3 linked regions of the Homo sapiens genome follow. The protein of the gene in region 1 interacts with the protein of each later gene in a biochemical or structural test. Each region holds a gene or a part of one and is shown on either strand. Other genes may lie near its edges.

Region 1 (7,058 bases):
AAGGTAGAAGGGAAAGGATAAGAAACTAAGAAATGTGAAAGAGCTGAAGAAAAGGACTTGCAGGGAGATCAGAAATAACTATGTAGCTAGAAAATAAGGAAGCCAGAAGAGCACAGAGAGGGATCCAGACACTAGAGAATAATCCAAGATCAATGTCAAGTCAAAAGATGGAAAAACTGATTAAGGAAAAACACCACAAGAAATTCAACAAGAACGAATCAGGTTGAAATTCTAAAGAGACAGGAAAAGTCTGAGGTGATGAGGGAAGTGCTAGCAAGAATGTTAAAACCCATGAAAGCATGGAGGCTCAAGGAACCCAAGGAGAGTGGGATGGGGCAGGTAGGGGCAGTTTGATCCTGCGTCAGAGTTCCAAAGGGAAAGCTAGAACTGGGGAACGAAGCAGCAAGGTGACCTGAAAGCTCAGAATTGACGCAGGAGTCCCTCCAGGGGAAGGCGTAGAATTGGAGAAACCCTGGGCAACGTGATGGAAGCAACCACTTAACAACGGCTCAAGGGAAGAAAGAAAAAGTGAAAACCAAGAATAAGGAAGGAGCAACTGAATAGCTAGAGCATAAAGGCCTATGAATTGAAGAGATTGGCACAAAGCTGGAGAAACGGAGGGACTGCCAGAGAATGATGCGGGGACAGAAGGGTAACCACAGAAGAGGCTGAAGACTGGGGAGCAGGTGTAGTTGTCTGAATGGGTATGAAGGCTGAGCGCTAAACAAAAACAATCAGACAGTAAAAGCAGAGTTAAAGGAAAGTCAGCACTGTTGGCAGCTTGCTGCTGGGAGCGCCAAAGATACTGGAGGCATGGGGAAGGCAAGATGCGGAGGTGAAATTCTAACCTTGGCGTGGCCGTGCTTGCCAGTCTTCGAAGTAGACATCTCGACGATCTTACATGGCCGGCCTTTGAGCACCACAAAGCCATTCTTACGTAATGCTGAGCACTGCATTGGGAAGGTGGCTGAGGCCCCTGCATCTCCTGTCTCGAAGTCCAAGTCATCTGCCATTTTAAGAGGCTTCGATTCCAACTAGAGCCAAGAAGAGAACTGAAGTGAATAAGCATGGAGGTCAACAGGACCTCCAATCTATCCCATTTCTCTCCAGAAACATTTTCCCAACTCTTTATTCCATTACCCACCTAAAATAAAGTCAAAGTTCCTGAACTTAAAATACTGACTGGGCTCAAATATACTCAAGAACTGGTGTGTGTATGGGAGGGTGGAATAGCTGGTTTCTCCCCCATAAATCAAAGCTAAAGTGGTGGCTTGGGAAAGGAAGGCTCTAGGGAGCTGGAATGTCAAATCTCAGAGATGAGAAAAGGCCTACTTCCTGGGAGTGGGGAGGACTCAGGTGTTACTTGCCACTGAAACCAACCACCCCTCTTCCCCACATATAGCCAGGGCTATAATTAGGTGAGCAGCTATGATCCAGCAAAAGGGCAGGGCTAATTGGGGGGGGGGAGGGTGGAGACCGGAGGACAAGGCCCCACCCATCTGTTACACTGCCCCCCCCCATCCACACACAAACCAGTCACTGCTACAGGAAACCACAAGGCCTCTTTGGGGGATTCCCGCCTCGCCAACATGCACTTGCAACAAGCCAAGGGGGAGAAAGCAAAGTTGTTTCCGAAATGATCCCCCTGCCAAACACCTCGATCTTGGTTCCCAAAGAGAACCCAGGAACCCAGCCTCTCCTGGAAGGCCCTCCCACTTTTCCCAGGATGCATCTGTCCTGTCGGCTTTTCAGGCCGGGCCAGTACAGTCAGTAGAAAGTGGGAGAGGTGGGGGGTGGTGAATGACAATAAAATGAAAGCAAAAGGTTGGTAGTAGTGAGTAGTAGAAAATCATACTAGGCTAGTAGAGTTAAGGACTTCGAAACCGTGGAACTCCCAAACCAGTTACAACAGGAAGACAGTGACAAGGTGAAGAACGCCTATCACGGTGGGAAACTCATCTGCCTGAGGCTTTTAGGCGCTGTCCACCCAGGCCGACAGAAAAGTTGGGCTCCTGTCCAAACGCCCTGTTTCCCCATTTCTCCGGCCTCCCAGCTCGAAGGGGTGCCACTTACACCTGGCTGACCGCCACACTTCACAGGAGGGTTTTTCAGGAAAGCTCCTGGGGCCCTTGAGGTTGGGAAGCGCTAACATATGCCTGCAGCAGGCCCTCCGGGGTGATTAGGACCCGAGCCTCCGGCTTCCACTCCTCAAAATCTCAGGCCCCCTCGGAACCCCCGCGAGGACTAGCTCCCCGCGCTAGGGGCTGCCGGCTCCTGCCGACCATGTGGCCGTTCCGGGCTTCCGGTGGCCGGGACCTGGGGGGAGGGGTCCCCGCGCTGCCATGCGGCCCCGGTCCACGCTTGGCCATGCGGCCTGCGACCCCGAGGGCAGCCTCCCGTGGGGGGCACTTCCGGTGCCGCGGCCGCCCCCTCCTCAGAGACTGCGCCAGGCCGGAGCCACGCCGCCTCCCCTCCCCCCGGCCGTCCGCCAACCCCCCCCATCATGCCCTCTCACCGAATAGCCCCCTCCCCCACCTCACGTGGCCGCGCTGAGCCGGGTCCTCAACGGCCCAGGTACCCTTGCCCCGGTGGGCCGATCTGGCCCCTGGCCCTCGCCCCGGCGTGGCCGCCTGGCGGCCTCTCCCGCGTGGCTGCCTCGCGGCTCGCCGTCCCCCGCCCTGCGTCGCTCCAACGTCACCGGGCCAACCCCAACCGTCACCCCGCGCGCCAACCGGGGCGCGCGCCCGCGCCTCTCCTCACCTCGCGCCGCTCTCTGGCCGAACCCGTGCGGCGGCGGCCGCCGCTCCCCTCTGCCCCCTCCCCGACCCCCGCGCAGTTCCATCTTCTCCCGGGCCCAAGCCAAGGTACCGCGCACACGCGCCCTGCCCGCTCTCACCTCGCGCGAACGCACTGACTCGACCCCGTCCGCTCGCCGCGAGCCCAACCGCTGCCTCCGAGCCCGCTGCCGCCGCCGCCGCCGCCTCTACCGCCGCCGCCGCTGCTGCACACGGGTCTTAGTACGCAGGCGCCGACTCCCCACTGACCAACCAAGCAGCCCTATGACAGCCGCGCAAGCGTGCTATCTATCTCCTCCGCCCTCCACCCCCGCACTGCGCAAGCGCACACACCCTACCCATCTCCACCCTCCCTCCCACCGACCCGTCCAATGACGCGCATACGTGACCCCGCCCCTCACAAACCCTGAGCGTTTTCAACTAATCTGCAACGCGCAGGCGCACCCGGTTTTTTAATCTCTTCAACCTCATCTTCCCTCCCCTTGATAGACCGCTCGTCCTACCGGGCAGTCCTTGCGCCTGCGCAATAAGGAGCCCTGCACTCCACACCCTCTAAAGGAAACGCCTGGGTCTCAGAACGCATGCGTGTTCGGAATCCTAAACAACCCCTTCCACCTCAGACGCCGTCAGTACGCCAGGCGTTGAAAAGACCACGCCGCTAGATCACTTGTCTCGTCTAGAACGCATGCGTCTCAGGATACGCCCCACCTCGGCTTTAACTGGACTTAAACGACTCACACGTTTCAGAAAACTTGCTCTGTGGGGTGGGCGCCTTGTCTTGGAATCAGTCCCCCCAGTTCCACACATGCGCGGGAGATGTCTTTCCGCCCCACTCTTCTAGCGCGCTAGTGTGGTCGGGTTCCCACCCATCTCGGCTTCACTTCTCTAAATCGAATGCCTATGCTCTGCCATAGAGTTCACCCGAGAAGATAGAGCGGTCCTGCGGCGGACACCATCTTCTTTAAACCCTCAGTCCGTATTGGTCTCTATGGCATCCATAGAGGCCATTCGGCTCTGAGGTCCTCAGTAAAGAAACTTAGATGGTATTACTGTGTTTTCCCCAACTGTGCTCTGCGGTTCCCCAAAGTATTGTCTACGAGGTCCCTTAGAAAAAATTGTCTATAAAAATGAGTGGTGGGCCGGGCGCGGTGGCTGACACCTGTAATCTCAGCACTCTGGGAGGCCGAGGCGGGCGGATCACCTGAGGTCGGGAGTTCGAGACCAGCCTGACCAACATGGAGAAACCCCGTCTCTACTAAAAATACAAAATTAGCCGGGCGTGGCGGCGCATGCCTGTAATCCCAGCTACTCGGGAGGCTGGGACAGGAGAATCGCTTCTCCTGTGGAGGTTGCCGTGAGCCGAGATTGCGCCATTGCACTCCAGCCTGGGTAACAAGAGCGAAACTCAAGTCTCAAAAACATAAATAAATAATACATAAATAAAATAAAATAGTGGTAGGCCGGGAGCGGTGGCTCACGCCTGTAATCCCAGCACTTTGGGAGGCCGAGGCGGGCGGATCACAAGGTCAGGAGTTCAAGACCAGCCTGGCCAACGTAGTGAAACCCCCGTCTCTACTGAAAATACAAAAAAATTAGCCGGGCGTGGAGGTGGGCGCCTGTACCAGCTACTCGGGAGGCAGAGGCAGGAGAATCGCTTGAACCCAGGAGGCGGAGGTTGCAGTTAGCCGACATCGCACCACTGCACTCCAGCCTAGGAGACACAGCGAGAGACTCTGTCTCAAAAAAAAAAAAAAAAAAAAAAAAGTGGTATGTTAGATTACATTGACATTGTCTTAATCATAGGAGACCATGAAGCTGGAGACGAGCTATCTTCCCAACTTTATTTTCTTTGCCCTCCCTCTCTCCGCCCCCCATTTCGCTTTTCCTGAAACTTCGTAGTCTTCTTCCAATTCCTGGGTTTCTTGCACTACCTTCATGGCTGCCTTGTTGGATAACAAGACTGAAACAAGCGGCCAGGCGCAGTGGCTCACACCTGTAATCCCAGCACTTTGGGAGGCCAAGGCGAGCAGATCACTTGGGTCAGGAGTTCCAGACCAACCTGGCCAACATGGTGAAACCCCGTCCCCACTAAAAATACAAAAATTAGCCGTGCCGTGGTGGTGCGTGCCTGTAATCCCAGCTACTCGGGAGGCTGAGGCAGGAGAATCGCTTGAACCCAGAATGTGGAGATTGCAGTGAGCCGAGATCTCGCCAATGCACTCCAGCCTGCACGACAGAGCAATACGCCATCTCAAAAAAAAAAAAAAAAAAAAAAAGACAGAAACAAGCGACCAAAGATCTTGGGATCTCATCCTTCTTTTGTGTCTTTAAGGAATTACTTCAGATAGCTCTGCCTTAATTTTCTTCCCATAAAATGAGAATAATAATGATGCCTGAACTTCCCAATTTTTCAGGACGTTGCAAAAATTCTGCAACATGGGTTGGGCATAGTGGCTCATACCTGTAGTCTTAGCTTTTTGGGAGGTCAAGGTGGGAGGCTCCCGTGAGGCTAGCAGTTACAGACCAGACTGGGCAACATAACAACGGCCCATCTCTACAAATAAAAAATTAAAAAAACAAAAACAAGAAAAGCTCAGCTCAGTGGCTGGTGCCTGTAGACCTAGCTACTCTTTCTTGGGAGGCTGAGGTGGAGGGATAGCTTGAGTCTAGGAGTTCGAGGCTTCATTGAGCTATAATCCCCACCACTGCACTTGAGCCTGGGCAACAGAGAACCTGTTTCTTAAAAAAGAAAAAAAAAAAGTCTTGTGACACGATACATGTGAACTGCAAACACTAGATTGAATTACTACATTTGTGTAGCCTGTTATGCTAACCCCCAGCTACTTCCCCTCAATTTTCTGAAATTCATGCCCTTTCCTTTGTAAAAAAAAAAAACAAAAACAAAAACAAAAAAACGCAAACAACTTTGTGAGTACATTGTTCAAAAGTCCAACACCTGCTTTTCTCAAAGCAAAGTATGTATTGTTCATGTGACCCAGCAATTCCACTCCAACGTATATATACTCCCAATGAATTAAAAACAGGTACTCAAAGAAAATCCGGGCCGGGTGCGGTGGCTCACGCCTGTAATCCCAGCACTTTGGGAGGCCGAGGCGGGCGGCTCATGAGGTCGGGAGATGGAGACCATCCTGGCTAACACGGTGACACCCCGCCTCTACTAAAAATAAAAAAATTAGCCGGGCCTGGTTGTGGGCGCCTGTAATCCCAGCTATTTGGGAGGCTGAGGCAGGAGAATGGCAAACCTGGGAGGTGGAGCTTGCAGTGAGCTGAGATCTCGCCACTGCACTCCAGCCTGGGCAACAGAGCAAGACTCCATCTCAAAAAAAAAAAAAAGCAAATCCGGGCATGTGAGTGTTCATTAGCAGCAGTTATTCACAGTAGCAAAAAAGGTGGAAAGAACCCAAATGTCTGTCAATAGATGAATGGATTTTTAAAATGTGGTATATCTATACAGTGGAATATTATTTAGCCATAAAAAGAGATGAAGTACGTGCTATAACTGGATGAATATTGGAAAACATTATGCTAAGTGAAAAAAGTCAAGATGCAAAAGGTCACATATTCTATGATTCCACTCTTAGAAAACATCTAGAATAGCCGGGCGCAGTGGCTCACGCCTGCAATCCCAACACTTTGGGAGGCTGAGACGGGTGGATCACCTGAGGTCGGGAGTTTGAGACCAGCCTGACCAACATGGAGAAACCCCATCTCTACTAAAAATACAAAATTAGCCTAGTGTGGTGGCGCATGCCTGTAATCCCAGCTACTCAGGAGGCTGAGGCAGGAGAATAGCTTGAAGCAGAGGTTGCAATGAGCCGAGATCATGCCGTTGTGCTCCAGCCTGGGCAACAAGAGCAAAACTCCATCACACACACACAAAAATTAACCAGGCGTGGTCATATGTACATGTAGTCCCAGCTACTGGGGAGGCTGAAGCAGGAGGATTGCCTGAGCTTAGGAGTTCAAGGCTGTAGTGAGCTGTGATCACACCACTGCACTCCAGCCTGGGTAACAGAGTAAAACCCTGTCAAAAAAAAAAAAAGAAGAAAAGAAAAAAACAGAAATGTTGTACATAAATGTTCAAAGCAACATTATTACTTTTTTTTTTTTTTGAGACGGATTCTTGCCCTGTCACTCGAGCTGGAGTGCAGTGGCACGATCTAGCTCACTGCAACCTCCGCCTCTCGGGTTCAAGCGATTCTCCTGCCTCGGCCTCCTGAGTAGCTGGGATTACAGGCACCT
Region 2 (7,023 bases), on another chromosome or scaffold:
AGGGTATCCTAATGGCTTTCCATACATATCCCAAACATAGGATTTCTGGATTTTATTTTCCTTATAAACTGAATCTGATTCCTTTTACTTCCTTGCTCTTATATTACTTTTTAACTCTGAAAGCCTACAAAGTATGGTACTTTGTTTATAAAATGATAAGAACAATGTATCAGTCACCTATTTTGGAGAAAGTTTTAATACATCTTATAAAGCAGGAAACAGAAAAAGAAGAGAAATTATTATTAATGAAAATATCTACTTGAGGGAAGAAGAGGATTGAACAGAGGACAAATCATTTGCAAAAGACTGATAGTTCACAACTGAGAAACAGAATTAAGTTTTGTATTCTTTTGAAGACACAGAGTCTTGCTCTGTCACCCAGTCTAGAGTACAGTGGCTCAGTCATAGCTCACTATAAACTCAAACTCCTAAACTCAAGCAATCCTCCTGCTTCAGCCTCCTGAACAGCTGGGACTACAGGCATATGCCACCATGGCTGGCTAATTTTTAATTTTTTTGTAGAGATCGGGTCTTGCTATGTTGCCCAGGCTGCTCTTGAACTCCTGGCCTCAGGTGATCCTCTCACCTTAGCCATCCAAGGCACTGGGATTATAGGCATGACCCACTGTGTCTGGCCAAAATTAAGTATTCTTCAATGAGTATCAATACTTAAGGATACCTAATAATACTCCATCAGGATGTTAGCTTCTCAAGGGCAGTAACTTTGAAAGCCTACGAAGTATGGTACTTTGAAAATGGTGCTTTTTAAGATAGCTCCCATCATTATTATGGACATGTGAACTGGCACTCATTTTCAAGGATAACATCATTCTGAACTGAGAAGAAATGCACTCCTTCTACAAAAGTTATGGCTAGGGGTGGTAGGGATAAAGTAGACAAAGAATCTTTCCTTCTTCTCATCTCCTCTAAAATAATGTAATTTCCATTAACTTAGCTTGCTAAAAATCCAGCCTCTGATGGGCCCAGGGAATGGAAAATATGTCCTGATGAATGCTGTCTCTGTAAGGAATCTCACTGAGGTAAATGCCACAGTAAATAGCAAGAACTCAGCTCATATCCTACTGATTGCTGCCCTCTAGGAGGTTTTCCATGATTTACAACAAACTAAAGCCTACTATCCCTTTAGAGTAACTGACCTCGCACCACCAGCAATGGCAGGAAATAAATGGCAAAGGACCACAGATCAAAAATAACTTATCAGTGGATACTTATAACTATCCTTGATTTAATTTCCTCCTTTGATTTGGTGAGCTCTTTTTTTCCATTATTTGAACCAATGTTCTAATATCTGAGCCAAAAGAGGCAAAGAGGGTTTCTTCTAAAGAAAGACAGTAACAAACCATGCCTTCCTTATTATTCTTGGTCACAGATATTATTCAGGGAGTGATGAGCTTCTGAAATTTTTATCTTATAAACCAACCAGTGGCAAAAAGAATGGGGCTGGCCCCAGAGAAAAAAAGCATCCTGGACATGATATATGGCTCCTAAGTTCTATATATCTGATCCTAAGACCAGTATCCAATTTAAGATTCTGAGGTAGTTAAGATATAGTAGATAAGACCCAATGCTTGGGTCTTAATCTTGGCTCTGCTGTTTACTAGCTGTATAACCTTGCAAGTTTTTAAATCTTTCTATGCCTTGTTTCTTTATCTGCAGAATGGTGAACTATCATATCTACTTCCAAAGATATGATGACTATTACAAGAATAAAACACATAAAACATGAATCGTACTAATGAGGTAAATGATCAATAGTTATTGGCAAATATTATTTGGAAGGTCTTGATCATACAAAAACAGGATATGGATATCTAAAATATTTAATGATTACTACACTGAGAAACTAAAAATCCTCCACAGCTGTGAAGCTTGAGTATACCCAGATTAGCCAGGGATGCTTATGCAAAGAAGGTACTTAGGAAAAGATACCCAACCCAGTTTTCTTTTGCTGTAAAAATAACCTTCTAAAATAAAACAGGTACCTACAGGTTTAGGCTTAGGAACAGATCAGTTTAAAAACTGTAGTGTAATTAATATACTTAAAATAAATTGGAGTTAGGAGGTGAAGACCGTAACTTCTCCCCCAATACCTCAAATATTTAATAATAATATAACTTTTTCAATGTCCATTTAAAAAATATCATACATAAATGGAGGCGATTTTGGAAAGCTTGTCATTCGTAATATAAGTGATCTAAAATGAGTAGAACTTAGGTAGAAAGGGAAGTAAAACTGGATTCCTATAAAGAAATCCCACAGTATTCCCTCATGCTGCAACATGGTCGGCTAATACTTATTTGTTCAGAAGAGATGAACTGCAGAATAGGAGCCTTAAAGAGTGAGAATACCAATGAGTGAATGTCTTCTTCAATGTTCAAATCTTCAACAAGAAAAGGTAAATTCAGTGGTTCTCAGACTTTAAAATACACCTGAGATGTTTGTTAAAAATGCCTGTCTCCACCACACTCCCTCATAGTTACAAGAATGAAGAGGCCTATGAGAGATGATTCCAATGCAGGTCATCCATGGACCACATTTTGAGAAAAAGTGAGATAATGCCTTAATTTAACTGCCACTTAATGTTTACTATTTGTATGTAAAAATAGATGCAACATTACCTCATCATTGAGCCAATTCAGATGGTTTAGAGTTTGAATATCTTTGCGTGTAATGGTCAGGCGAAATGCTTCACTGAGAACTTCATCCTGATTCCCATTACGAAATACATTCTTTATTTCTTTCTCCATTTCCTAAGAAAACAAAAGGTGTCAAGACATCAAACACGCGTGGCTTCAGAAAAACCGTATTTCTCACCAAACCCCATATAATCCTCAGACTATATTTATCACCATTCGATTGTTTATAAATTTACTGTTAATCAGTTTACTTCTAACATTTTGGTTTCTATTCCTTCCCAGTAATCCCCGATTACTTCTTTCCACTTCATCTAGTCCTCCCTTCTCTTTTTCAGCACAACATTCAGATCCTTGTTTCCATATTAATTCCTAAAGTCTGGAACAACCTTCCGCTATCAAATTTTCTAAGCACATGAGAAAAATTAACTGTATTTTATATCTCTGGTCCAAATGACTTCCTGAGAAACAGAATTTTTCATAAAAGGTAGTAAGAGAGTAAAGGCAGTATCTTTTAGAAATTACTTTCTTAGAGATCTTTTTTTTTAAATGTAAAGTATGGAATTCAGTACAACTATAATAAGTGTGTTATGCTCACCAGCTACATGGTAGTGTTTCAAAGAGAAGTATGGATAAAGAAACGGATTATCTAAAAATGTACACAGACCTCCATGTATTTTCCAAATTTTCTATAATGGGTTTTATTACTTAAAAAAAGAGCAAATCTCAGCTTACAATTTGAGGTCAAACTATTGTATGTGTGCATTAAGTAAAAATGCACATGACATGAAAGACAAATGTATTAAATGCTTCTTCACTGAAACTGTTAAAAGCCACCCATAGTTCTTTCATAAATTTTCAATATTTTAAAAATAAAGCCCAGATTGGTATATAAAATAAGCGAAAGCTGAAATATACAAGAAAATTTAAATAACACGTGTTCTATGGCTTTTTGTGTGTGTGTGTATGTGAGATGGAGTCTTGCTCTGTCACCCAGGCTGAAGTACGGTGGCATGATCTCGGCTCACTGCAACCTCTGCCTCCCGGGTTCAAGCAATTCTCCTGCCTCAGCCTCCTGTGTAGCTGGGATTACAGGTGCATGCCACCACACCCAGCTAATTTTTGTATTTTTGGTAGAGATGGGGTTTTACCATGTTGGCCAGGCTGGTCTCGAACTCCTAACCTCAAGTGATCCACCCGCTTCAGTCTCCCAAAGTGATGGGATTACAGGCGTGAGCCACCGTGCCTGACCACTATTGCTTTTATGTTTGAAACTCATCCGAGGGATTCTTTCTAAACATGATACTTAGTAGTGTAGAAATTAAGTGTATGTAACTTACCTCTGTAATTTCAGGAAATTCATCTTCACTATCAGTTAATTTATGACCTTTTTTTTGTGTTTCTTGGACAACAGTAACAGGAATCTCCTTTTCAAGAGGTACACGAAGATGTAGTTCTACTGAATCATGTACTGAATGTTCCCGCTCCTGCAATCTCTGAAAGATAAAACTTCAGAGTAAGTGGGATAAAGAAATCTGTGGATGTTCCTTGATTTATGATAGGGTTATGTCCCAATAAACCTGTCATAAGTCAAAGAGCGTGCTTAAATGCCCATTGCTTTCGCTTTTTTGTAAAGTCAAAAAATCATTAGTCGAACCATCACAAGTAGGGGACTATCTATATTTGTCTTATGTACAATGAGTAGCACTGACTGGACAGACCAAGAACATTTACGACATATCATAACATGCTATGCTACCATACGATCTTGGAATTACAACAGCAATTACCCAAATCTGGGTAACTTTCCAAAATAGTTTCTACTTTGATGTACTATTTATTTGTAATATTATTCCAATTTTCTTTTTTACCTGGTTTTGAAGCTGTAAGGCCAATGCCTTCTGTTCTTCAATCTGGCGCAATCTTTCTCGTGCTCGAGAATCATAAACACTAGTTCTAGAAAATGAAAAGGAACGTGACCAAATGTAGACCACTCTCATTATGAAACATATTGTTGATGTACACTGAATATTAAATACAGGACCCTCACAAAGAAAGTCTAAAATCCTTACACTAACTTATCATCCTTATTTTAAGACATAGAGTGAAACCACATAATGTTACTGAAATTACTCTACCATTTTTACTTATTATTTTTTATAGAGATAGGGTCTCACTACAGTGCCCGGGCTAGTCTCAAACTCCTGGGCTCAAGCGACCCCCCTACCTTGGCCTCTCAAAGTGCTAGGATTACAGATGTGAGCCATTGCACCCGACCTATTTTTACTGAAATTACTAAAAATATTAGTGTGCTGCTAAATGTGAACAGATGACTTGTTAACATTTGTAAACACACAGTTCTTTTCTTAACATGCTTTTAAGATTATAGTGAAAGCGAAACTTCAGTCTGGAAATCCAAAAATGGGATTGAACCCTAAAGGAGAAACGAATACAAGATATCACTGAAGTTTAATTCAAATACTTCATTTTTGATAGATTTTTAAAAAATTACCGAGACCGAGGGGTTTGGATAACTTAAGTTCCTTAAGTGAGACTAAATGCTTTCAGTGATTTTGCAAAGTCCAGAAATATGAATTATTCAATAAATTAGTTTTACAAATGCCAAAATAGGATCATTTATTTTCCCTATTATATAATAGCTAACTCTATTTTTCCAATTTAATTTAGCTTCAACAATTGTTATAGATTTAATAAACATAAGTATAGAAATGTTCCAACTCCAACAATATTTTGAAAACCCAACAACTTAAAAGTATAAACAGGCACTTCTTTTTTTTTTTTTTTGAGATGGAGTCTTACTCTGTTGCCCAGGCTGGAGTGCAGTGGCGTGATCTCGGCTCACTGCAACCTCCACCTCCCAGGTTCAAGCAATCCTCCCGCCTCAGCCTTCCAAGTAGCTAGGATTACAGGCGCGTGCCACCATGCCCAGCCAATTTTTGTATTTTTAGTAGAGATGAGGTTTCACCATGAAGGCCAGGCTGGTCTTGAACTCCTGACCTCAGATGATCCACCTGCCTCAGCCTCCCAAAATGCTGGAATTACAGGCGTGAGCCACCGCGCCCAGCCTAAACAGGTACTTCTTATTGGCAAAAAATAAGCAGGATGATTAGCTAATTGTTTGATTTCTTCTAACTAAAAATGAACTGATTGAGAAGGAAAAATGATACCAAAAATAACTTACAATTCTTTGATCCACAGCTCTGCCTGGAAGAAAGTAGAACTATGGGTAGGAAAAGAAAAATTTGACAAATGAGCAGGAGGCTTATGAGAAAATTAAAATATTTTCATCAATAAAAACAATCATTTAAATTGTTTATATGAGTGCTTTACAAGTATGGAATAAGTAAAAGGAATCTAAATGACATAAAATAATTGTAACTAGGAATTAAGGAGACACAATCCTTATGCATACATATTAGTTAAAATCATATGGATACATATTAGTTAAAAAGGTGACCCAAAGTTCAGCAGAGATACTACATTTGGCATAGCTCCCTACTTGCATGAGACCAACATTACGTGAAAGAGGACATCACTTCTCAAAATAATACATTAAGCTAGAACATTGCTCTTCCCAAATGACTCAGATTGAAAGATTTATTAAAAATCCCCACACACAAAATAATCTACATCAAATGGCTAACAAGCCAATGAGCCAAAGCAGAGAATCAGCAACACAACTTCCTTCCAAAGATGACAGGCCAATTCTAGGTCCATGTGGCTCTGCTGACAACCCAAGTGATATGCTGAGCAGAGCCACAGACATGATTAATTGTCCTAGAGCCTCTTGTTTTTCTCAAACTTCCTTATCTCCAAACTCCTAACTAGGCAGGATCTATCACAGAAACACAAAGAAGAAGAGTGAACACTTTTCCAAAGAAAACTATTAAATATAGAGAACAAGTAAACAGAGCATCAAATTGGGAGTTAAGAGACCTGGATCAGAGGCCAGGCATGGTGGCTCATTCCTGTAATCCCAGTGCTTTAGGACGCTGAGGTGGGAGAATCGCTTGAGCCAAGAGTTCAAGACCAGCCTGGGCAACATAGTGAGATTCTGTCTCTTAAAAAAAAAAAAATGATCTGCAACTAGAATAGTGCTTGGCACAGAGTAGGCATTTAGTGTTGTTTGTTTGTTTTTTGACTCTCACTCTGTTGCCCAGGCTGGAGTACAGTGGCACAATCTCGGCTCACTGCAACCTCCACCTCTCGGGTTCAAGAGATTCTCCTGCCTCAGCCTCCTGAGTAGCTGGGATTACAGGCACCCGCCACCACACCTGGCTAATTTTTTCTTTTTTTTATTTTTATTTTAGTAGAGACGAGGTTTCACCATGTTGGCCAGGCTGGTCTC
Region 3 (7,723 bases), on another chromosome or scaffold:
AAGCAAAAATAATTATGAAATACATCACTATTTGCATTTTGAATCTCAAAGCATATTAACAGTTAAAATACAGCAATTTTCCATAAGATATATTCAGACCCACAGATGGATAAATGCTAAGATCACTCTGTTTAAAATATGTAGCTTAATGCTTAATAATTGACGGAGCATTAACAACCTTAATTAGCCAAAGATGAATTAATTTACCTCCTTTCTGGTCCCAGTATCCTACAGCTTAAGAACCACAGACTGGTAACAGACAAACCAGAGTTTGAGTCTCTACCCCTTGCTATGTAAATTTGTGTAGATTACTTAGCATCTACATGTTGGAGTTTCCTTAGCCTGTAAAATGAAAACGAAAGTAACACGCCAGGTGCAGTGGCTCACGCCTGTAATCCAAGCACTTTGGGAGGCCGAGGCAGGTGGATCACGAGGTCAGGAGTTCGAGACCAGCCTGGCCAACATGGTGAAACCCTGTCTCTATTAAAAATACAAAATTAGCTGGGTGTGGTGGTACATACCTGTAGTCCCAGCTACTCGGGAGGCTGAGGCAGGAGAATCGCTTGAACCCGGGAGGCGGAGGTGGCAGTGAGCCAAGATCGTGCCACTGCACTCCAGCCTGGGCAACAGAGTGAGACTTGGTCAAAAAAAAAAGAAGATGAAAGTAATAATACCTACCTCACAGAGTTACTGGAGATAAAAAGTAATATATGTAAAGGGCTTGGCACAGCGCCTCCAACATAGTATGTACTCAATAAATGGTAGCTATTAATAATTTGGAATATAGCTTTCATATTAAGAAATAATACAATAACTACTCTACACATCTTTGGTACAAATTTCTGAATACTTAAGTGGAAATTTCCAAAAAGTCATTTCCTTTTTTTTTTTTTGAGATGAAGTCTCACTCTGTCGCCCAGACTGGAGTGCAGCAGCACGATCTCGGCTCACTCCAACCTCTGCCTCCTGGTTCAAGCGATTCTCCTGTCTTCGCCTCCAGAGTAGCTGAGATTAAAGGTGCCAGCCATCACGCCCGGCTAATTTTTATATTTTTAGTAGAGATGGGGCTTCACCGTGTTGGCCAGCCTGGTCTTGGGCTCCTAATCTTTAGTGATCCGCCCACCTCGGCCTCCCAAAGTGCTGGGATTACAGGAATGAGCCACCGCACCCGGCTGTAATTTCCTGTTTTTAATAACATGACACTTTTTTCAATACTACTCTCCTCTGAAAAGATAAAAAGCATTTAGACAAATTATTTATACAACATATGACAGATGGGGTAGAGTGGAAAGACACACAGCTTTAGAGCCAGACAGAACTGAGTTCAAGACCTAATTCAGCCATTTAGTAATCGTGTAACCCGGGCCACTTACAGTTTCTCAACCTTGTAAAGCAAAGCTGTTGCAAGAATTAATAAAATATGTAAAGTATGTAAAGCATCAAGCCCAATATCTAGCACTCAATAAACGGTACTTACTACTATTCTTCTCACCTACTCCTTATAGGGGATAAAAGCAGCTTTGCCAGGGAAGAGGGAAGATATTGGAAAACACAAATACTAGTTTATATTAAGCCAGTGACGAAGGACACTGATTTTACCTGATCAGTGTAAGAACTACAGCCGTGTTTTGGGTGGCATACTCCTTCCAGAATCCAATGAAAACGGAGCCCCTAGCTCCTAGGAAAATTTCAGGAATTTTACAAAACGCTCTATGTCAGGGATTTTTAAGAATCTTTTATTAAGGGGAATACTAGCTAGTTACTTCTGCTTAATTTGCAAAAGTGTGAAAACCTTCACTAGTCTGTTTTGTGACAAAACGTACATTAAGTTAATATTCATAATGAAGCAAGTAAATCCTGCTTTTATTAGACTTCTCGATTTCTAAAGAAACAAAAATATCTGGTGTAAAATATTAGAACTACAAACTACGCTAGAATTAGTTCGAATATTCTCAAATGTGATGCTCAAACACCCTAACACCAAACCAAAAGGAAAAAAGTCCAAAAAGGTAACAAAGCTGGCTGTATCCAATTCTTAGAAAGTCTGAATCAATCCAGGTATCAAATGAACCTCTAACTTCCCAAAACATCTACAAACACCGAAGTCATAATTTGCAAAAACAAAGCTGAGCCAGCAAATAGAAACACTGTTTACTAACTGAACGTAGTTTATCCTTACTTCTCCTCCTTGCATGTAATACTTTTATCCTTTGACTCGGCCTTCTCAAATTCCCTTAGTAAACAATCTCATCAAACTGCTTATTGTAGTGTAAGCATGAAGTCAAAGAGTAGCATAGACTCAGTTCTCCAAATCGCGGGAGCTTTAAGGAGCTTAGCACTAGACCAAGTTTTGCCCCAATGACCTTGGTCTCAACGATTCCCCTCCCTCCCTCCAGCCGGCCCGGCCCTTCCACGTGCTGCCGGCTGCAATTACTCCAGAGGTGGCTGCATGTCAGGGAAGCGCTAGAGGATGCGAATGCACAGGAAACAAGGGTTGCTAACAGCACCCAGGCTGTGCCATCCAATCCCTCCCGACACCAACTCCCCAAGAGCGCTCACACAGCCCTACAAATTTCCCCTACCGAAGCCCTGCGGGGATAACCCCAACTCCTTCCCGGCGCCTTGCTCTGCGACCCAGTCTGTGGGGCAGGGTGTAAGGTGAAGAAATTCTCTTTGCTACACCACTATATTCCCACGCCCGACTGGGGTGCTGGGCAGCCAGGGGAAGGGGACAGCTCCTGGAAGGAGGGGACGACGGCAGGAGGAAAGTAGGCTGAAGAATCCTGCGCCACGCCACCGCCACCTCCTCCTCCACTTCCAGGCTCCCTGCAGGCCCTTGCCAGTCGCCAGCCCAGCGAGCAGCAAGGCCTGGAGTGGCAGGGCCGACCGGGGGCCCGCGAATCCCGGGGTCTGAGGGGCGCGGCGTCCTCACCATCAGAACTTTAGCCGCGTTCTCCAGCTGAGCGATCACTTCTGGGGGCCCCAGCGCCGCCGCCATCATGGTCTCTCTTCAATGACGCGCCATGCGCTGCATTCTGGGAGCGGGCGCCGCGGCCGGCCAATCGCCGCCGCGACCCCGGAGCCTCACGCGCTCCCAGGGCCGTCGCAGCCGCTGTCGACACCGGCGTCGCGGCCTCGGCGGGTCTGGCCGGGCTGCCGGGTTCCGGGTGGCTGGGAGGGGACTAGTGTGAGCCCGGCCGCCGCGCTGGGGCGGGGGCGGCCGCAGCCGGCACCGGGCGAGGCCGAGGCGGTCTGCCCAGACTGCTGCAGCCGCGCGCCCCGCTAAGCTCCCAGCCCCGCGCATGCGTGGTGTCCGGCGCCCCGGCCTCGCGGTGCCCCCGGCCCTCTCCCCACTACCCTAGTACAGCCCGCCCGGGGACCCGCAGATCCACGACGCCAGTTCGCTCCCTCCGTTCTCAGCCCTGCACACCGCCTCCCCTGGCTCCTCCTTGCCCTTCCACGCTCCAGCGCCGTGCAGGATTTCCTAAACTTGGAATCGCTCTTCCCGCTTTCCCCTCCTCAGAGCGCACCTCCTTTCAAAGTATCTCTGTCTCCTGCTTCTCTGTTCCTTCTTGCCATGGGAGAACATTCCAGGATAGAACGCTTCGTTTTCTTTCTTTCTTTTTTTTTTTTTTTGGAGACAGGGTCTCACTCTATCGCCCAGGATGGAGTGCAATGGCCCTATTTCGGCTCACTGCAACCTCCGTCTCCCGGGTTCAAGCGATTCCCCTGCCTCAGCCTCCTGAGTATCTGGGATTACAGGCGCCCGCCACCACGCCCGGCTAATTTTTGTACTTTTAGTAGAGACGAAGTTTCACCATGTTGGCCAGGCTGGTCTCGAACTCCTGACCTCAGGTGATCCGCCCGCCTCGGTCTCCCAAAGTTCTGGGATTACAGGCGTGAGCCACCGCCCCCGGCCGAACGCTTCGTTTTCATAATGGAGGGCTTTGGCCTTCTGCAGGACAATCATCCAAATGTATCTGGGCAGCGGGTCGCTAGGAGACCCTAGGAGGAAAACCCGTCTTTGGCTCTTGCCGTTTTCACTCTTTAAGGGCTGGCTCACATAGGAGAGGGAGAAAGCAGGGACAGGAAAGCCTGACCTTGACTACCTGGCTTCTCAAATGCAGTAAGATGAGCTTTGTCGGCCAGGCGCTGTGGCTCATGCCTGTAATCCCAGCACTTTGGGAGGCCAAGGCAGGCCTCATTTTAGCTCAGGAGTTCGAGACCAGCCTGGGCAACATCGTGAGACCCTGTCTCTACCAAAAAAAAAAAAAAAAAAAGCCCGGTGTGGTGTCTTGCGCCTGTGGTCCGAGCTTCTCGGGAGGCTGAAGCGGAAGGATTGCCCAGGAGGTCGAGAGTGCAGTGGGGCGAGATCACACCACGGCACTCCAGCCTGGGTGAGAGGCTGATCCTGTCTCAGGAAAAAAAAAAAAAAGGACAAAAATCAGCATTGTCGTGTTTGTGGAATCCGTGTTGAAAGGCATATTAGAGTATCAAGTAATTAACCTTCCCTCCGGTGCTCCAGTTGCCTCTAGGACATTCCACGCAAGTGGTCCTGACAGCTGTTTCAGTATTCAAACCAGTGCTGTTAGGTTGTTCGGATCAGGGGTTTGTTTCGTTTTGAGCTGACATCTACGGTCTACATTCCTATAACTTCTTTTTGGTGCTTATTCAGCCTTCTGAAACAACACAGACAGTCAAATTCGTTTCAGTATTTTTAAGTTTATTTTTTGTTGAAATCTTCCTGTTTCTTATTCCTAGTTATAAGAAAGCCATACTGTTGAGGTTTTATGTCACTGCAACAGAATGTCTGTGTGTGTGTGTGTGTGTGTGTGTGTGTGTGTGTGTGTGTGTGTGTGTGTTATGGAGTCTCTCTCTGTCACCCAGGCTGGAGTGCCATGGTGCCATCTCAGCTCACTGCAACCTCTGCCTCCTGGGTTCAAACGATTCTCGTGCTTCAGCCTCCAGAGTAGCTGGGATTACAGGTGTGCACCACTACACCTGGCTAATTTTTGTATTTTTAGCAGAGACGGGGTTTCACCATGTTAGCCAGGCTGGTCTTGAACTCCTGACCTTAGGCGATCCGCTGCCTCAGCCTCCCAAAATGCTGGGATTACAGGCATGAGCCACTGTGCCCGGCCACACGGAACTGCATTATTAGCTCCGTTGGAAAATATGTTGTTTCTTGTACTTGAAGTCTCTGCAACTTGAAGTAGAGAAAATGAATTAACAAGGTTTGTATTGCTTGAGAAACTAAGTAAGTTTTATTTTATTACTGAAGTTTAAAGTGAGCCAAAATGCAGTTAATGGTCCTTTTTAGTAACTAAGTGTTTATCATAGGGCCTGACATATAGTAGGCACTCAGTAAATATTTGACCAAGTATAGCAATCTACAAGAAAATTACAAAATGATTCTAGTTGCTGCAAAGAGTAATTACCAAAGATCAATGATATTGTGCAAATATGTAGATAAACAGTTTGTGACAGTAAATGTTTGAGGCTTATAATGCTTCAGATTGGGCCTTGGGTTCCAAAGTATTTATTTTGTGCAATTACATTAGAACTTTGCAACTACACGTGTTTTAAGAAAGAGGGCCAGGTGCAGTGGCTTACGTGTGTAATCCCAGCACTTTGGGAGGCCCAGGTGGGCGGATCACCTGAGATCAGGAGTTTGAGACCAGCTTGACCAACATGGAGAAACCCCATGTCTACTAAAAAAAAAAAAAAAAATACAAAATTAGCCAGGTGTGGTGGCACATGCCTGTAATCCCAGCTACTCGGGAAGCTGAGGCAGGAGAATCACTTGAACCCAGGAGGCGGAGGTTGCGGAGAGCCAAGATCGCGCCACTGCACTCCAGCCTGGGCAACAAGAGTGAAACTCCATCTCAAAAAAAAAGAGAAGGCCAGGCGCAGTGGCTCATGCCTGTAATCCCAACACTTTGGGAGGCCAAGGCAGGCAGATCACTTGAGGGCAGGCATTCAAGACCAGCCTGGCCAACATGGTGAAACCCTGTCTCCACTAAAAATTAGCCAGGCGAGGTGGCACAGGACTGTAATCTCAGCTACTCAGGAGGCTGAGGCAGGGGAATCGCTTGAACCTGGGAGCCAGAGGTTGCAGTGAGCTGAGATTGTGCCACTGCACTGCAGCCTGGGCAACAGAGAGAGACTCCATCTCAAAAAAAAAAAAAGAAAGAAAAGAAAGAAGTGTTGGATGCGGTGGCTCTCGCCTGTAATCCCAGCACTTTGTGAGGCTAAGGCAGGAGGATTGCTTGAGCCCAGGAGTTCAAGACCAGCCTGGGCAACATAGCGAGACCCCATCTCTACAAAACAATAAAAATTAAAAAATTTGCCAAGTGTGGTGGTGCATGCCTATGGTCCCAGTGACTCAGGAGGCTGAGGTGGGAGGATCACTTGAGCCAGGGAGATAGAGGCTGTAGTGAGCTGTGATTGTGCCACTACACTCCAGCCCGGACCACAAAGTGAGACCCTGCCTCTAAACACAAACAAACAAAAAATAGGCCAGGTGCAGTGGCTCGTGCCTGTAATCCCAGAACTTCCGGAGGCCAAGGCAGGTGGATCACTTGAGGTCAGGAGTTCAAGACCAGCCTGGCCAATGCGGTAAAACTCCATCTCTATTAAGTACAAAATTTAGCCAGGCATGGTGGTGCGTGCCTGTAATCCCAGCTACTCAGGAGGCTGAGGCAGGAGAATCGCTTGAACCCGGGAGGCGGAGGTTGTAGTGAGCTGAGATTGCACCACTGCACTCCAGCCTGGGTGACGGAGTGAGACTACATCTCAAAAAAAAAAAAAAAAGGCCAGGCACAGTGGCTCACGCCTGTAATCCCAGCACTTTGGGAGGCCGAGGCGGGTGGATCACCTGAGTTTGGGAGTTCAAGACCATCCTGGCTAACACGGTGAAACCCCGTCTCTACTAAAAAATTAGCCAGGCGTGGTGGCGGGCGCCTGTAGTCCCAGCTACTCGGGAGGCTGAGACAGGAGAATCACTTGAACCCAGAAGGCAGAGGTTGCAGTGAACCGAGATCGCACCACTGTACTCCAGCCTGGGCGACAGAGACTCCATCTCAAAAAATAAATAAATAAATGAAAATAAAAATAAAAGGGAAGGGATATATTTTTATCAAATGTGAGGATTAATTTGCTTCCTTTCAAATTAACAGTATTTTGAATTTTGAGACTTTATGAAGTGAGGTATAGACATCTCACATAATGAAGCCATGAATTTCAGGGCAGAGCTGAAATTGTAGGATCTCAATGTTGGAAAACACCCTAGAATTTGCCTATCAGTTAACTTTCCTCCAATGCCTGACTCTTGTTATTCCTTGATTTATTATTCAATAACAACACTCTCCTGGGGCAGAGGTGGAGAGGGTAATTGCAGCCTTGTCATACGCTTTTTTTTTTTTTTTTTTTTTTGAGACGGAATCTCCCTCTGTTGCCAGGCTGGAGTGCAGTGGCGCAATCTTGGCTCACTGCAACCTCTGCCTCCCAGGGTCAAGTGATTCTCCTGTCTCAGTCTCCCAAGTAGCTGGGACTACAGGTGCATACCACCGCGTTTGGCTAATTTTTGTTTATTTATTTATTTATTTTTTGATACGGAGTCTCACTCTGCCACCCAGGCTGGAGTGCAGTGGTGTGGTCTCGGCTCACTGCAACCTCCGCCACCCGGGTTCAAGCGATTCCCCTGCCTCCGCCTCCTGAGTAG

Evidence for each region. Proteins that work in one complex are often made in the same cells at the same time.
Region 2: of the proteins of EIF5A (region 1) and SENP1, one has a biochemical effect on the other in vitro, tested with the Homo sapiens proteins (one study listed by BioGRID).
Region 3: the proteins of EIF5A (region 1) and XPO4 form a complex in vitro, tested with the Homo sapiens proteins (one study listed by BioGRID).

What each region holds. Positions count from the first base shown.
Region 1 is NC_000017.11:7,303,591-7,310,648, reverse strand, and holds the start of EIF5A (eukaryotic translation initiation factor 5A-1), read right to left. Parts: upstream 3,022-7,058; 5' UTR 2,897-3,021; intron 2,681-2,896; exon of another isoform or gene 2,516-2,680; intron 2,277-2,515; exon of another isoform or gene 2,074-2,276; intron 1,679-2,073; exon of another isoform or gene 1,534-1,678; intron 1,035-1,533; coding exon of another isoform or gene 1,014-1,034; coding exon 849-1,013; coding exon of another isoform or gene 362-848; exon of another isoform or gene 1-361. UniProt on the Homo sapiens protein: Translation factor that promotes translation elongation and termination, particularly upon ribosome stalling at specific amino acid sequence contexts.
Region 2 is NC_000012.12:48,061,071-48,068,093, forward strand, and holds part of SENP1 (sentrin-specific protease 1), read right to left. Parts: intron 5,896-7,023; coding exon 5,857-5,895; intron 4,611-5,856; coding exon 4,526-4,610; intron 4,151-4,525; coding exon 3,995-4,150; intron 2,772-3,994; coding exon 2,640-2,771; intron 1-2,639. UniProt on the Homo sapiens protein: Protease that catalyzes two essential functions in the SUMO pathway.
Region 3 is NC_000013.11:20,899,738-20,907,460, forward strand, and holds the start of XPO4 (exportin-4), read right to left. Parts: upstream 3,010-7,723; 5' UTR 3,002-3,009; coding exon 2,933-3,001; intron 1-2,932. UniProt on the Homo sapiens protein: Mediates the nuclear export of proteins (cargos), such as EIF5A, SMAD3 and isoform M2 of PKM (PKM2). In the nucleus binds cooperatively to its cargo and to the GTPase Ran in its active GTP-bound form.